Linked DNA regions of Homo sapiens: region 1 is linked to region 2. A link means that fine-mapping ties the variant in region 2 to the expression of a gene that starts in the linked region. Tissue or cell type: whole blood. Region 2 holds a variant in brackets; the other region holds the start of a gene. All regions are shown on one strand. Distances are from middle to middle.

Region 1 (6,800 bases), 82 kb after region 2:
GGCTCTCTGACCCTTCAGGGATGCACTGAGACCTCCTGCTCCCGGTCACCAGCCTCCCACAGCCTTCAAGAGTCACAGTCCAGGCTGCTCCTGGACTAAAGCCAGCCAGGCGGGCCCGTGGCAGAGACACTCAGAACACGGCCTAGACTTCAGGATGTGTCTGGGCACCCCCAACCGCTGTGAGGAAGGCTAGAGAAGCCCTGAGCTGTGACACTGGGGTGGGAAGACTTAAACACACCATCTCCCATACTACAACCATCTTAAGAAGAGGTAGTTTTTCTTTTTAAAAATTATTTGAGACAGGGTCTCGCTATGTTGCCCAGGGTGGTCTTGAACTCTTGGGCTCAAGAGATCCTCCTGCCTCAGCTTCCTAAAGTGCTGGGATTACAGGTGTGCTCCACCACTCCCAGCTAATTTATTCTTTATAGAGACGAGGTCTCACTTTGTTGCCCAGGCTGGTCTCAGAACTCCTGGGCTCAAGTGATCCACCCACCTCAGCTTCCCAAAATGCTGGGATTACAGGTGTGCGCCATCTTGCCCAGCCACTTTTTCTGTTTTAAAAAGAATTAAAAATGAAGCTCAGATATGTGAAGTAGTTAATCCAGCTCTTAAGTACCAAAAAGACATTCAAATTCAGTCTCTATTCATCAAACTTCCCAAATGCTAAAGGCAGCAAAAACTCCTGCTCCCGACCTAAGAACAAGGCCTGTGATCCTAGTTTGTGGAGTAGCTGGAGAATTTTCCAGAAGTCTCTTTAACTCCTCAGAGAAAAGAACACTTTCCCCTCTTCTGCAAGCTTGCTCAGTTAGGCCTTGGAGAGCCTAATGGGTGTGGCTGTGCGGGGGCTGGACCATGCACTAAACCACACCCACCCACCAGGCAACAGACGGAAAGACACAGACAGCAGGGCGGGTGGGCATGAGGACTCCACACCAGGTCTCTGAACCCATCTCCTGGAATGCCGTAGGTCAGGCTGTGGCAGTCAAATGGCTGCTTTCTGCTGAGAAAGGATGAACTATGACTTCCCCTGGGAAAGTAAATAAACCTTGACAATAGGGGAGGCTGCTCAGTGTGAGCTTGGTTTGCACAATCGTGTGCTCAGTTATATAACGGAGGATTGGATTGCGCAGTTTTCTCCTTGTTGAGAGGAAGCTCTTCCTGGAGCGCCCACCAGCTCCTCCCTCCTCAGGAGAGGGGTGTGGCTGGATCCTTGGCAACGCTTTGGTCCCCTAACGGGGGAACTGCTGGGGTGCCTTCTCCCTCCTGCAATCCCCACCTTATCCCACAGCCCCTTGGAGACTCTGCTCCTAAGCCACTAGGTCTGGGTCAAGAACCACACACAGGCAGCCCAGGGGGCCAGCTGGGCTGGGCAGTGACCCTCCTGCCTTGACTCAGGGCTCTTGAACTCTTAAGATTTTGCCTCCCCTACCCTGTGGCCAGGGCCTTCACTCTAGTTGAAGTGTCTTCACTGGACCCAGCAGAGGCTACAGGGCCCACTGAGTCCCTTCAAAACTTACTGTTTCCCTCCTACACATTCCTTTCCTGAAATCCCTTCAGACTTTGCCACAGAATCATCACATAGCAGAGCTGCAAGAAGGCCTGCAGATCGCTGAGCCTAACCTCATTTTACAGATGAGGTCCAGAGAGGGGACACATTAATGGCAGAGCTGGGACATGAGCCAAGTCTTTTTTCCAGCCCAATCCTCTTCCCACATCACTGTATTACCTCTCAAAGGAATGAATTGCTGTTGATGGGATTTATGGCCCTAGCAGAGGTGGGTTTTCAGTATGAGATCCTAGGCACCCCTCGAATCACTATCTGTCTATCCCATCTGTGCCCACTCTGTCCCCGAGTGGGTGGGCTTCGAGCTACTTCTTCAGCAGGGGTGACCAGCTCATGCTTGGTCCTCCCTTATTTGGTACACCCAGCTGTGATCCATGTGGTTGAACCTCTTGGCGTAAGAACTGAGAAATGAATCTCGGTAGCCCCTGCTTTCACATGTCTGGGCCTGGGCCAAGATACCAGAACGGGAATCAAGGTGCCAGGTGAGCAATCACCAAGCCTGGGTATCAGGTCGACAGGAGGGGCACTGTGCATTGGTGAACCTGGGCTCCCTGAAAATGCCAGTTATGCTTAAGACATCAGGCAGGAACCAGGACACCCCAGGAGAGTCACTCCACCTCCTGCAGTGGTCAAGATGCCCTTTCTGCAAAGGTCCCTCTGCCCACAGAGCCCTCATTCAGGGCTTCCTGAAGATGTTCCCAGCCGCGTAAGTCCATGCCAGCTAGTGTGCTTCAGGCACAGCTGAGAGGCAGGAGGCATCACGCAGAGAGCATGTGGCTTGTCACAGATGGTGCTGAGGTTCACCCTGGCTGTCTTGCTGAGTAGTTATTTTCTGTGGAAGGTCCTTCCTTTCCTGGAATTGGGAAGAAGGCCGCAGAAAGCTCAGGAGTCCCCTCACTTACAGACTGAGCTAGTTCAGTTTATCCAGTAGGTCACTCATCAGCTTGACCCACACTCTGCAAACACAAACATCAGGCCATTCAAGCTGGGCACACTCCTGCCCCCAGCCTTTGCACCTGCACCCCAGGCAGCAGCTTGGCTGCTCCCTAACTCTTCAGGTCTATGCCAGTGCCACCCTTCAGTGAGGCCTTCCCTTTCCACCTGGCACTCCTCTCCCCTCTTTAAAGTTTTATTTATCTCCATATTACACATCATCTTCTAACATACTTTATAGTTTACAAATGTATTTTGTTTATTATCCCTCTGCCCCTAGAACTGCAAATCCCACGAGGGCATGCTCCCCGCTGTGCCTCAGTTCCACAGTGAGCAGTTCCTAAGTACCGCCCATGCCTCCTCAGCGCCTCCTAGGTGTGGAAATTTGGGAAAGAAAAACTGCTTGGAGAGCACTCGCAGAGTTTTTGCTGCTAAGTCAGACCAAGTGGGGCCAGTGAAAGGCCCCCTATTATCCCCCAAACCTAGCTCCCTGAAGGAGGCAACCGTTACACCAGAAAACAATGTTACTTTCTGGAGAAGTGTGGCTTCCTGAAAATGTTTATTTTAAATTATGCTGGATGCAGAGGAGGCTGCACAGTGGTACCGAAACAGCCACCAACCCCAAGGTCCTCAACAATTTTCCACCAACAGCTCATCAATCCCAGCAAAGGGCTGTCCTGGAAGCGGGCCTGCCAAGTGCATGGGTCCCCCTCACCTCCCACCTCCAGCCACAAGCTGAGCCCTCACAGAACTTCCAGGACAACGAGTGTTGCCTGTAGGGGCGGATCCAGGCTTTGCGGAACCTGAAGTTTAAACAATGGGAGGTGGGCTATGGAGGGGGCATTCAACTTTAAGAAAAAAAAGTCAAAATTAGGATTACAACATTGCTAGGCACCCCACCTCCAAGATCTCGGGAGCCGCCAGGGCAAGGAAGGAGCCAGAAGCTCAGAGAAAACCGACATCTGCCAGGGAGGGAGGCAGGCGGCCACTCGGTCTCCGCGGCGCTTTTGCTCAGGTTGACCACATTCCCTGGCTTCAACTACAAGGTGAACTCCCGGGCAAGTTTCCTGTTCTACAAGAGGAGAGGGCTGGCCTTCAATCCCGAGACCAGAGCGAGGGGGTGCCGGGCGGCGGCTGCGGCAGCAGATGGAGATGAAAGCGCATTTCAACTAAAAGGTGTGATCAGTGTCAGGCCTCTGAGCCGAAGCTAAGCCATCATATCCCCTGTGGCCTGCACCTACACATCCAGATGGCCGGTTCCTGCCTTAACTGATGTCATTCCACCACAAAAGTGAAAATGACCTGTTCCTGCCTTAACTGATGACATTGTCTTGTGAAATTCCTTCTCCTGGCTCATCCTGGCTCAAAAGCTCCCCTACTGAGCACCTTGTGACCCCCCCCACTCTGCCCGCCAGAGAACCCCCCTTTGACTGTAATTTTCCTTTACCTACCCAAATCCTATAAAACGGCCCCACCCCTATCTCCCTTGGCTGACTCTTTTCGGACTCAGCCCGCCTGCACCCAGGTGAAATAAACAGCCATGTTGCTCACACAAAGCCTGTTTGGTGGTCTCTTCACACGGACGCGCATGAAAATCAGTGTTCCGACTTGGGTGACAAATTAAGTGCATTTCACCGCCGAGCGAGCCACGGCCCTGGAAGCAGAGCTCGCCCAGGCCAGGGGACGCGGTGCGCTCTCGGGGTCGCGAGCCTCCCTCCCTGCGGCGTCCGCCCACAGTCTGGGACGCGGAATTCCCTGCGAGAAGTCCGCGGTCGCCTGCAGGCTCCTTCCCCCAGTAGGCGGCACGCGCAGTCTCCTGGCCGGGGCAGGAGCTGGGGGCGGACCAACTACAAGTCCCTCTGCACCCCTGCGGGCCGACCGCAGCCCCGACCCCTCGGCGCCCCGGCCCGCCGCCCACCCCGGCGGCCGAGCCCGCGCGGAGCCCGAACCGCGTCTGCGTCCGGGGAGTGCGGGCCCGGCCGGCCCCGGGCGCTTACGGTCTCGGCTCGCAGGCTCCGGCGGCGGCAGGCGCGCGATCTCTCCGGCTCCCTGGCTCTCCTCGGCTAGTTTTCAGCAGCCCCGGCGCAGTCTCCGCCCAAGCCCGGCCTCCGAGCGGGGCGTTCCCCGGCCTGGAGGACCCGGGAAAGTCTCTAGGCCTGCCTAAGGCTCCACCTCTGCCAGGGATAAAACGGGCTACTTAAAGGGCGGTCCGCGGCCCCGCGGCCAGAAATGGAGAGAAGCGTTTGGCAGCTCCTACAGCAGTTTGATCCCGTAACTTCGTCAGTTGAATCTAAAAACAAAAATCCAAACTTGCATGATGTATGTCCTTTTTTTTTTTGGAGACAGAGTCTCACTCTATCACCCAGGCTGGAGTGCAGTGGTGCGATCTCGGCTCACTGCAGCCTCAAGCGATCCTCCCACTTCGGCCTCCAGAATAGCTGGGACTACAGACTGCGCCACCACACCTGGCTAATTTTTTAAGTTTTGTAGATACGGGGGTCTCACTTTGTTGCCTAGGCTGATCTTGAACTCCTGGGCTCAAGCGATGCACCTACCTCCGCCTCCCAAAGTGGTGAGATTATGGGCGTGAGCCACTGCACCTGGCGGTGTATGTCTTTTTAATTTCATCTTTCTAGCAATTCATTCTTAGTATATTTAACAAACATATTGGTCCGTGACATGCTTGGAAATCTAAAAACAAATTAGTGTCTTTATACAGAGAATGTGAGAAGCAATGGTCTGAAGCACTCTTGGGGGTCTTCATGGTGAGGACCAGTATAGGATGCTGAGTTCAATGCCAGGGGAGCAACCTCTTAGTGAATCCCCTCCCGCTTTGGAGAGAGCTCAGGGCCCAGGCGGGTGGTTGCTGGGGCTCTTTTAGCTTCCGTGAGAGCGTTGATCCCCAGCCCCTCATCGTTAGAAAGCCTGTCCCATCGCCTCTGCCATCACCCCTCCTTAGCTTCTCTCTTCACCTGCTCAGAGGTGCAGTTCTTTCAACCACCAGCATCCTCACGATCTCGGTGGACAGACTACAGCTAGGAGGCCACATGCAGGGCCCGTGGCTGGAGTTCTAAGCTTCTGACTGTCACCTTGCACACTTCAGGATAAGGTTCACCACCACCCACCTTCCCTTGGCCTCCAACCTTTCTGCTCACCCTGGCCCAAGAATTCTGGCCGGCAGACGCACTCACCTCACTCCCACCTCCAAACTTTTGCTCTTGCAGTACTGCCGGACAGGGTGCCCTCCTCCATCCACATGTAGAGTCCTCTTGTCCTTTAATTCTACACCCTCCTATAAAAGCTTTCTCTTGCAACTGCAGTCTCTGACATCTCTGTATTCCTTTCAGAACCTGCAGTCTGGGAGAGTTCTTTCCCCTCCCCTCCAAATAGTTCACACAGAAGCTCTGCCTCTGGCCACTTCACCAGGGGACCCAAATTCGTTACTCTTAAAACTGCAGTGATGGTGAAACAGGTAGGAGTCAGGACTTAACGCCAGAGGTGGGGCTTGGACACCAGATTGAGGACCAAATTGAGGACTAGCTAAAACAGGGACTGGGTGGAAGATGAGCATAAGATATGCCCATCATATCAGTGTGCCATGTCAGTTTACCAGGGCACGCCCCTGGAGTTATCACCCCCCTTCCATGGCAATGACCCGAGGACCCAAAAGTTACTACCCTTTTCCTAGAAATGTCTGCATAAACTGCCCCTTAATCTGCATGTAACTAAAAGTGGGTATCAACATGACTGCAGAATCGCCCAGAGCTGCTGCTCTCAGCACACTGCCTGTGGGGCAGCCCTGCACTGCAGGAGCAGGCCCCCTCTGCTGCTGCTGGACACCGCCACCTCCATAAAAGTTGCTGTCTCACACCACGGGCTCTCTCTTGAATTCTTTCCTGGACAAAGCTAAAAACCCTGCTGGGCTGAGACCCAATCTGGGGTCTCAGCTGCCCTGCATCAAAACTCTTCTAAAATTAGATATTGGTGATGGTTACATCACTACAAGTCTGTAAATATACCAAAACCCGTGAAATTTTACACTCTTAAAGGGTGAGTTTTATGGGTATGTGAATTATGTCTCAATACAGTTGTTATTTTATTTATTTATTTGTTTGTTTTTGAGATACAGTCTCACTCTGTTGCCCAGGTTGGAGCGCAATGGCACAATCTCGGCTCACTGCAACCTCCGCCTCCCAGGTTCAAGTGATCCTCGTGCCTCAGCCTCCCAAGCCGCTGGAATTACAGGCACTTGCCACCACACCCAGCTAATTTTTGTATTTTTAGTAGAGATGGGGTTTCACCA
Region 2 (8,157 bases):
ACTGCATGAGCCTGGGCAGCTGGGGGCAGCTCCCTACACACAGGGCAGGCCTGGATCTAGGGAGATTGGGAAGCCAGTGGCACCTACTTCATCTGCCAGGGGACAACTTGCTTCTGTTGCTGCCAGCACTGGGTGGTGTTGAAACGCTGGGCTGGACTGTGGTCGCTTAGGCAGCAGACAGACTTCCCAATGAGGCCCTGGGGCTAGGAGGGCAGAGTGTTGGTGGGATAGGTCCCTGAATATAGGGGACACAGGTCCTCTTATAATTTCCACCTACAGCTCTCTGCATGCCTGAGGGTATTTCCTGAAAAGTTTGTATACAATGACTGCAAATAATCAAAATGAGTAACTGTAGAAGAAAATCGGAGGTGTAAATATTAGAAACGAGGAGCAGAATTATCACTATTAATTAGCAAATGACTTTTTTCCTTCCCACAAAAGCAAACAAATCCATCTCTACACACTCTACTTCTGCATGGTTTTGAATTTTAAACAAATGGAATCGTATTCATCTTTCATGTCTGGCTTCTGTTCAATGTTCTGCTTGTGACATTTGCCAATGTTGTAGACAGTTTCGGTTCATTTTCTTTGCCATAAAGTATTCCATAAGACTATACTACATTTTATTTGTGCTTTACAGTGTCGATGGATATTTTTGGTGAGTTGCTTCAGTTTGGACTCTTATAAACAATGCTGCTGTATCATCAATCTTATGCATGCATTTCTGTCCAACTGAATGAAATGACTGTGCCTTTTTTCTTTCTTTTTTTTTTTTTTTTTGAAATGGAGTCTCACTCTCTTGCCCAGGCTGGAAGTGCAGTGGCGTGATCTCGGCTCACGGCAACCTCTGTGCCCCACCCCGCCACGGGGGTTCAAGTGATTCTTCTGCCTCAGCCTCCCGAGTAGCTGGGATTACAGGTGCCCATCGCCACACCCAGCTAATTTTTGTAATTTTAGTAGAGATGGACTTTCACCATGTTGGCCATGCTGGTCACGGACTCCTGACCTCAGGTGATTGGCCCACCTCGGCCTCCCAAATTGCTGTGATTAGCGGCGTGAGCCACTGTGCCCGGCCCCTTTTTTGTTTTTAAGAGACAGGGTCTCGCTCTATTGCCCAGGCTGCTGTATTGCAGTGGTGCAATCATGGCTCATTGCAGCCTCGAACTCCTGGGCTCAAGCAATCCTGCCACCTCAGCCTCCCGAGTAGCTGGGAGTACTACAGGTGTGTGCCACCATGCCTGGCTGATTTTTTTTATAGTAGAGATGAGGTCTTGCTATGTTGCCCAGGCTGGTCTTGAACTCCTGGCCTGAAGCCATCCTCATACCTCAGCATCCCAAAGTGTTGGGATTATAGGCATGAGCCGTGGTGCCTGGCCATTGGGTCTTAAGTTTACCTGGTATCTTGAACTGTAGTAAATACTGCCAAGTTCTCTAGTGTGGTGTAGCACTTTACGCTCTCACCAGTGATATCTGAGAGTTCTCACTGCTCCAGATATTCATCAAATTGGTTTTACTCAACATCCATTATATTATTATTATTATTATTATTATTATTATTATTATTTAGAAATAGGGTCTCACTCTGTCACCCAGACTGGAGTGCAGTGGCACAATCATAGCTCACTGCAGCCTTAAACTCCTGGGTTCAAGTGATCCTCCTGTCTTAGCCTCCTGAGTAGCTAAGTGCACACCACCACACCTAATTTAAAAATGTTTTTGTAGAGATGGGGTCTTGCTATGTTGCCCAGGCTGGTCTTGAACTCCTGGCCTCAAGCAATCCTTCTGCCTTGGACTCTCAAAGTGCTAGGATTTAAGGCATGAGCCACCATGCTTGGCCCGTTCTCGATTTTTTTTTTTTTTTTTTTTTGAGATGGAGTCTTGCCCTGTCGCCCAGGCTGGAATGCAGTGGTGCGATCTTGGCTCACTGCAACCTCCGCCTCCTGGGTTCAAGCAATTCTCCTGCCCAGCCTCCCAAGTAGCTGGGATCACAGGCGTGCGCCACTACACCCAGTTAATTTTTGTATTTTTAGTAGACACGGGGTCTCACTACGTTCGTCAGGCTGGTCTCGAGCTCTTGACCTCGTGATGCGCCCGCCTCGGCCTCCCAAAGTGCTGGGATTACAGGTGGGAGCCACCGCGCCCAGCCCGTTCTTGATTTTTAAAAAATTCTATTATGGATACTTCGTTAACATGATAAAATGTATTTAGCTCAACCGTAAAGCTCATACTCAATGGGGAAATAGTAAAGGAGTCCTATTAAAACCAGGACAAAACAATGCTATCCATTATCATCACTTTTATTGAATATTGTTCTAGAAAAACTACTAAATGGAGTTAGACAATAGAAAAAAAAATTCCAGAGGAATAAACTTTGAAAAAGAGGAATTAAATTATTAGTAGCAAATATTAAGATTTTGTACCTAGAAAATGCAAGAAATCAACTAAGAACTGTTAGGTACAATAAGAAGTTCCAGTAAAGTCTTCTATGCACCAATTTTGAACTCACTTTACTGGAATGTCTTATTGTTTGTAAGAAGTTTGAAGAGGACTTCTATGTACCAATTGGTACCACAGCCTGAAATCTTCAGGCTGGGCACAGTGGCTCATGCCTGTAATCCCAGCACTTTGGGAGGCCTAGGCGGGTGGATCACTTGAGGTCAGGAGTTCAAGACCATGAAAACCTGTCTCTACTAAAAATAAAAAATAGCCAGGTGTGGTGGTGTGTGCCAGTAATCCCAGCTACTCAGAGGCTGAGGCAGGAGAATCACTTGAACCTGGGAGGTGGAGGTGGCAGTGAGCAGAGATCGTGCCACTACACTCCAGCCTGGGCGACAGAGCGACTCTGTCTCAAAAAAAGAAAAAGAAAAAGAAATCAAGTCTTTAATGACACAAATAACACTTAAGCAGTGTGATGGTATAAAAAAATCCCATCTTCAATACAAATGAAAAGCAAACTACCCAGGAGTTGATTTAACAAGTTATTTATAAGATGTTTTAACAAGTTATATGTAAGACATAAGACAAACCATGAGGAAAGGCAAACTGTGTTCTTAGATGAGAAAATGCCAGTGCTTCCTAATCTGTGAATTTAACATAATTCAATAAAAACATTAGAGTATGACAAAAAAAAAAAACAGCATAAACAAAGTATAAAACACAAATTATACATGGGAGAAATATTTGCAATGCATATAACAGAGAAAAGGCTAATGTCCCTGATATATAAAGTGTCTACATATCAATAAGAAAAAACAACTCAGTAGAAAATTGACACAAGGTATGAACAAACAGTTCTCAAAAACAGAAATATAAGCTGAGCATGATGGCACACACCTATGTTCCCGGCTTCTCCAGAGGTTGAGACAGGAGAATTACTTGCACCCAGGAGTTCGAGACCAGTCTGGGCAACACGGCAAGACTTCCTCTTTACAAAGCATAAAAAATTTTGGCTGGGCACGGTGGCTCATGCCTGTAATCCCAGCACTTTGAAGGGGCGGAGATGGGCAGATCATCTGAGGTCAGGAGTTCGAGGCCAGCCTGGCCAACCTGGTGAAACCCCATTTCTACTAAAAATACAAAAATTAGCCGGGCGTGGTGGTGGGCACCTGTAATCCCAGCTACTTGGGAGGCTAAGACAGCAGAACCTCTTGAACCCTGGAGGAGGAAAATCTCTTGAACCTGGGAGGTGGAGGTTGCAGTGAGCCGAGATCCTGCCACTGCACTCCAGCCTAGGCAACACAGTGAGACTCTATCTCAAAATAATAATAATAATAATTCAGCTGGGTGTGGTGGTGCACATCTGTGGTTCCAGTTACTCGGGAGACTGAGGCGGGAGGATCCTTTGAGCCCAAGAGGTTGAGGCTGCAATGAGCTGAGATGGCACCACTGCACTCCAGGCTGAGCAACAGAGTGAGACCTTGTCTCAAAAAATAAATAAATAAAAATAAAATAAAAATGTGCAGATGAGGAACAAAAAGAGACTGACATTCTTCCATATTCCCTTTCCTATCTTTTGAAAGTTGTGCTATTTGTATTAATTACAAACAAAAACAAAAACAAGGCCGGGCGCGGTGGCTCAAGCCTGTAATCCCAGCACTTTGGGAGGGGGAGACGTGCGGATCACGAGGTCAGGAGATCCAGACCATCCTGGCTAACATGGTGAAACCCCGTCTCTACTAAAAATACAAAAAAATTAGCCGGGCGCGGTGGCGGGTGCCTGTAGTCCCAGCTACTCGGGAGGCTGAGGCAGGAGAATGGCGTGAACCCGGAAGGCGAAGCTTGCAGTGAGCCGAGATTGTGCCACTGCACTCCAGCCTGGGCGACAGAGCGAGACTCCATCTCAAGAAAAAAAACAAAAAACAAAACAAAACAAAACCAAAAAAATTCAGTTTCAACACCAGAGGACAAAAAAGAAAAAGGAAACAAAATAAAAAGAAAAAAAGAAAAGAAAAAAGAAAAAAAAGAAACAATGTTAACACACAATTTAAAAAATTTAAACATTTAAAAAATTACTAACAGTATAAGAGACTCCTACTATTTATTGGTCACCTAGTGTGTACCAAGAGG[G/C]TGTGCTAGGCACCCTGTAGACATCTCAATTAATACAAACACTGCAAGAAAAATACATTATTCCCATTTTATAGGTGGAAACGTATTGTATTGAAGAATGTGGAAAACCTGCCAGTGGCTGGGTGTGGTAGCTCACACCTGTAATCCTAGCACTTTGGGAAGCCAAGGCAGGAGAATGGCTTGAAGCCAAGAGTTCAAGACCAACTTGGCCAACATAGTGAGACCCCCGTCTCAGAAAAAAAAATTTAAAAATATGACAGGGCGCGGTGGCTCATGCTTGCAATCCCAGAAGTTTGGGAGGCCGAGGTGGGCAGATCACCTGAGGTCAGGAGTTTGGGACCAGACTGGCCAACATGGTGAAACCCCCGTCTCTACTAAAAATACAAAAAAATTAGCCAGGCATGGTGGCGGGTGCCTGTAATCCCAGCTACTCGGGAGGCTGAGGCAGGAGAATCTCTTGAACCCAGGAGGCGGAGGTTGCAGTAAGCCAAGATCACACCATTGCACTCCAGGCTGGGCAACAAGAGCGAAACTCCATCTCAAAAAATAAATAAATAAATAAATAAGAATAATATTAAAAAATTAATTTGAAAAAGTAAAAGAAAACCTGCCAGAGGCCACACAGCTAGTAAATGTGAGTGGCATAGCAAGGTTTGAACTCACTCTTGCCAAGAAGGGTGTCATGTTGGACCCCCAAGCAGGCAAGCTGGGAGGGCACCACCTTGGAGAGACCAAAGAAAAGACCCAGAGACAGCAGGCAAGACATGAGCTTTATTCAAGGGACTTACGCACAGGGGGAAGTCCAGGAGCGGCAGGCTGGACAGGAGCAACCGCTGCCATTTGTGAAAAGTGTGCAGGTCATGTAGAAACCTTCACATTGCAACATTTGTTTGTTTGGTTGGCTTTTTTTGAGACAGGGTCTCACTCTGTCGCCCAGGCTGGAGCGCAGTGGTGCAATCTCGGCTCACTGCAACCTCTGCCTCACAGGTTCAAGCGCATCTCCTGTCTCAGCCTCCTGACTAGCTGGGACTACAGGCGTCTGCCACCAAGCCCAGGTAATTTTTGTATTTTTAGTAGAGTCGAGGTTTTGCCATGTTGGCCAGGCTAGGCTCCAATTCCTGACCTCAAGTGATCCGCCCACCTTGGCCTCCCAGAGTGCTGGGATTATAGGCGTGAGCCACCACGCCCAGCCCAAAACCACATTGCAACTTCCATCTAGCAACCTCTACTTAGCAGCCTCCACCTACCTCAAAACAATGGACCTCTGTTCCTTGTACAGCCTGTGTTCCAAGTAACAGGCCAGGGGCCTGACATTCTTCATAGTTAAACATAATTAAACATCCAGGTTGGCCGTTCCCACGGTCCATAGCCTGGAACACTGAACAAACATCACCAAGGGACAAAGGGTCCTTCCCAGGCCATGCTTGAGTTGTTGCTGTCTGGCAAGATGTGCCCACCACACAAAGGTGCTGGATGAACTGAAACGGGTCCCTATTCCTGGTTTGTTTCCCACCCTCCTCAGCCCAGACAGAGCCCCAGGGAAGGACCCCTGATGATGCCAGAGTCTGAGCTACTTTGGGAGAACAGGAAGTGCCCACACAGGGGGTGCCTGGAACCACCAAGGAGCCACATGGGCCCCCAGGCCTGGGGTCAGGGAGGTTGATGGTGTGGGTTGGGGCAGCCCAGGACACCTGGACTGGCCTTGGGGCATTTCCTGAGCACTCTCAGAAGTATCTGCCCCTGCCCAGGAAGGGGGCAAAAGCCACCCTGGAGACCCTAGATGCTGGGCTCTGACTTAGAAGCCACTCCACTCCTGGACTCTTAGCTTTGCTGACGTCAGAGCCCAGGCCTGAGTCCAGCTCATCCCCATCCATGGAGGCCCCAGGATGACCTCTGACCCCCATGTTTTCCCATGGCTCTCACTTGGCAACCTGGCCTCTGGTTGGGGTCACATCCTGGCCCACCAGGGGCAGGAGGGTGTTCGAGGGCAAAGGGCCCCACTCCTCATCCACCCTCCTACCTGGGCCCCCTCCCCCTCTCCCCAGTATGGCCAGACCACTGCCCTCCAGTGCCCTTAGCTCTGGGCCGAGGGCCAGGTCCAAATGTGCTCTGAGTCAGGGTAGGGATCACTCATTCCCTTGCCCCGCTCTCCTCCCTTAGATAGAAGATCTGGTTCTGGGGCCACTTTACCATCTCAAGCCCAATCTGGGCAGACCCAGGTGGGGATGGTTGGGGAAGCCAGGCTCCGTCTTCTGCATGACAAAGGGTGGGGCTGCCCTCCCTCCTGGCAACACTTCAGACCATTGTAAACAGTCTCCCAATCCACATTTGTTTTATTTTTCGTTGTCAGATCTAGCAAATAAAAATATAGGACTCTGGTGAAATTTGAATGTCAGGTAGACAATGAATAATTTTTTTGGTATAATTATGTCCCAAATAGTGCCTTGTATTTTATCTGGTAGCCCTACCCCTGGCTGATCACCCAAATGTTTTATTTCCCCAGCAAAACTCTTCAACCAGCTTACAAATCCACATTCAGGATAGGGGTCCTCTGTCTTGGGGGATTGTCCCCCTGCCCCAGCCTAGACCTGATCACCTGGATTGAGACCACCTGGCTCCCTTTAGGGCATAGATCAAAACTAGGCTGTAAATAATTTGAGTGTGCCAAGAACTTTGTGAATTGCAAGACCTGACTTTATATGGACATTGATCATTAACTTTGTGAGCTTCGGGAAGTTGACACCTCTGAGCCTCGGTTTTTTTTCAGCTCAAAAATTGGGAGAGGTTGCCGTGAGCCGAGACTGCGCCATTGTACTCCAGCCTGGGCAACAAGAATGAAACTCTGTCTCAAAAGAAAAAAAAATTGGGGGAGAAGGTAGCCTGGATATTCCTTTCAACTCTAAACTCTAATTCTGTGAACAGCAGGGATGAGGGAGAGGATGAGGCTCCTTCCTTATTGGACAAAACCCCGTTGGAACTAAATGCTCCTAGGCTCCCTTGCCTAGGAAGGTCCCCCCAGAACAGTGGGAAATCTGGTTTCACAACTGGGGACCACCAGCTCAGGATCTCATGAGGCCCCGGGACCCTCTGAGCACGGGCCCGGATGCTCATCCCTGCAGACTGGATTGGCCCTTAGAGCCCTGGCGTTGCCTGAGCCATTCTGGTTCCTGTCAGTTGTTTGGTTGCAGCAAGGAACAAGACTCTAGGTCCACTTACCAGCAGCTGGGGGAACTGAGCCTCTTGCAGAGAACGAGAGCCCCACCTCTACTCTAGGAAATGAGCTTTTTAATTTAACTGGTCAGGCCTCAACCCACATTAGGGGTTCATGACCATTGTATAGACAGCTGTAGCCAGCTGTTCACAGCCCAGACAGACTTGCCCTATCTAGACAGCCCCCTCCTCCCAGCTCAGGGACTCGTCTGGCTGTGAGCTTCCAGGAGGTCTCAGGGGTGTGACCTCCCTCCCTCCTTCCCTCCCCACTCCCTACCTCCTCCCTCCACCCCAGGCTATAAAGCTGCCCAGGCTTGGCTCTCAGCACATCCAGCTGCCTGAGACCCTCCTGCAGCCTTCTCAAGGGACAGCCCCACTCTG

Evidence for each region. PIP is the estimated chance that this variant, and not a neighbour inherited with it, causes the effect.
Region 1: it holds the start of EPHX1, and the variant in region 2 is fine-mapped to the expression of EPHX1 in whole blood (TOPMed, PIP above 0.99).

What each region holds. Positions count from the first base shown.
Region 1 is chr1:225,807,864-225,814,663 of GRCh38, reverse strand. It overlaps EPHX1 (epoxide hydrolase 1), which reads right to left and starts at 4,540. Exons shown (of 9, transcript NM_001136018.4): 1 at 4,495-4,540. RefSeq lists a silencer at 4,363-4,582.
Region 2 is chr1:225,889,092-225,897,248 of GRCh38, reverse strand. LEFTY1 (left-right determination factor 1) reads left to right here and starts at 8,103. Exons shown (of 4, transcript NM_020997.4): 1 at 8,103-8,157. RefSeq lists enhancers at 66-275, 219-982, 5,083-5,798, 5,799-6,516, 6,517-7,234 and a silencer at 5,766-6,060. The variant G/C (reference allele first, on the strand shown) is at 4,567.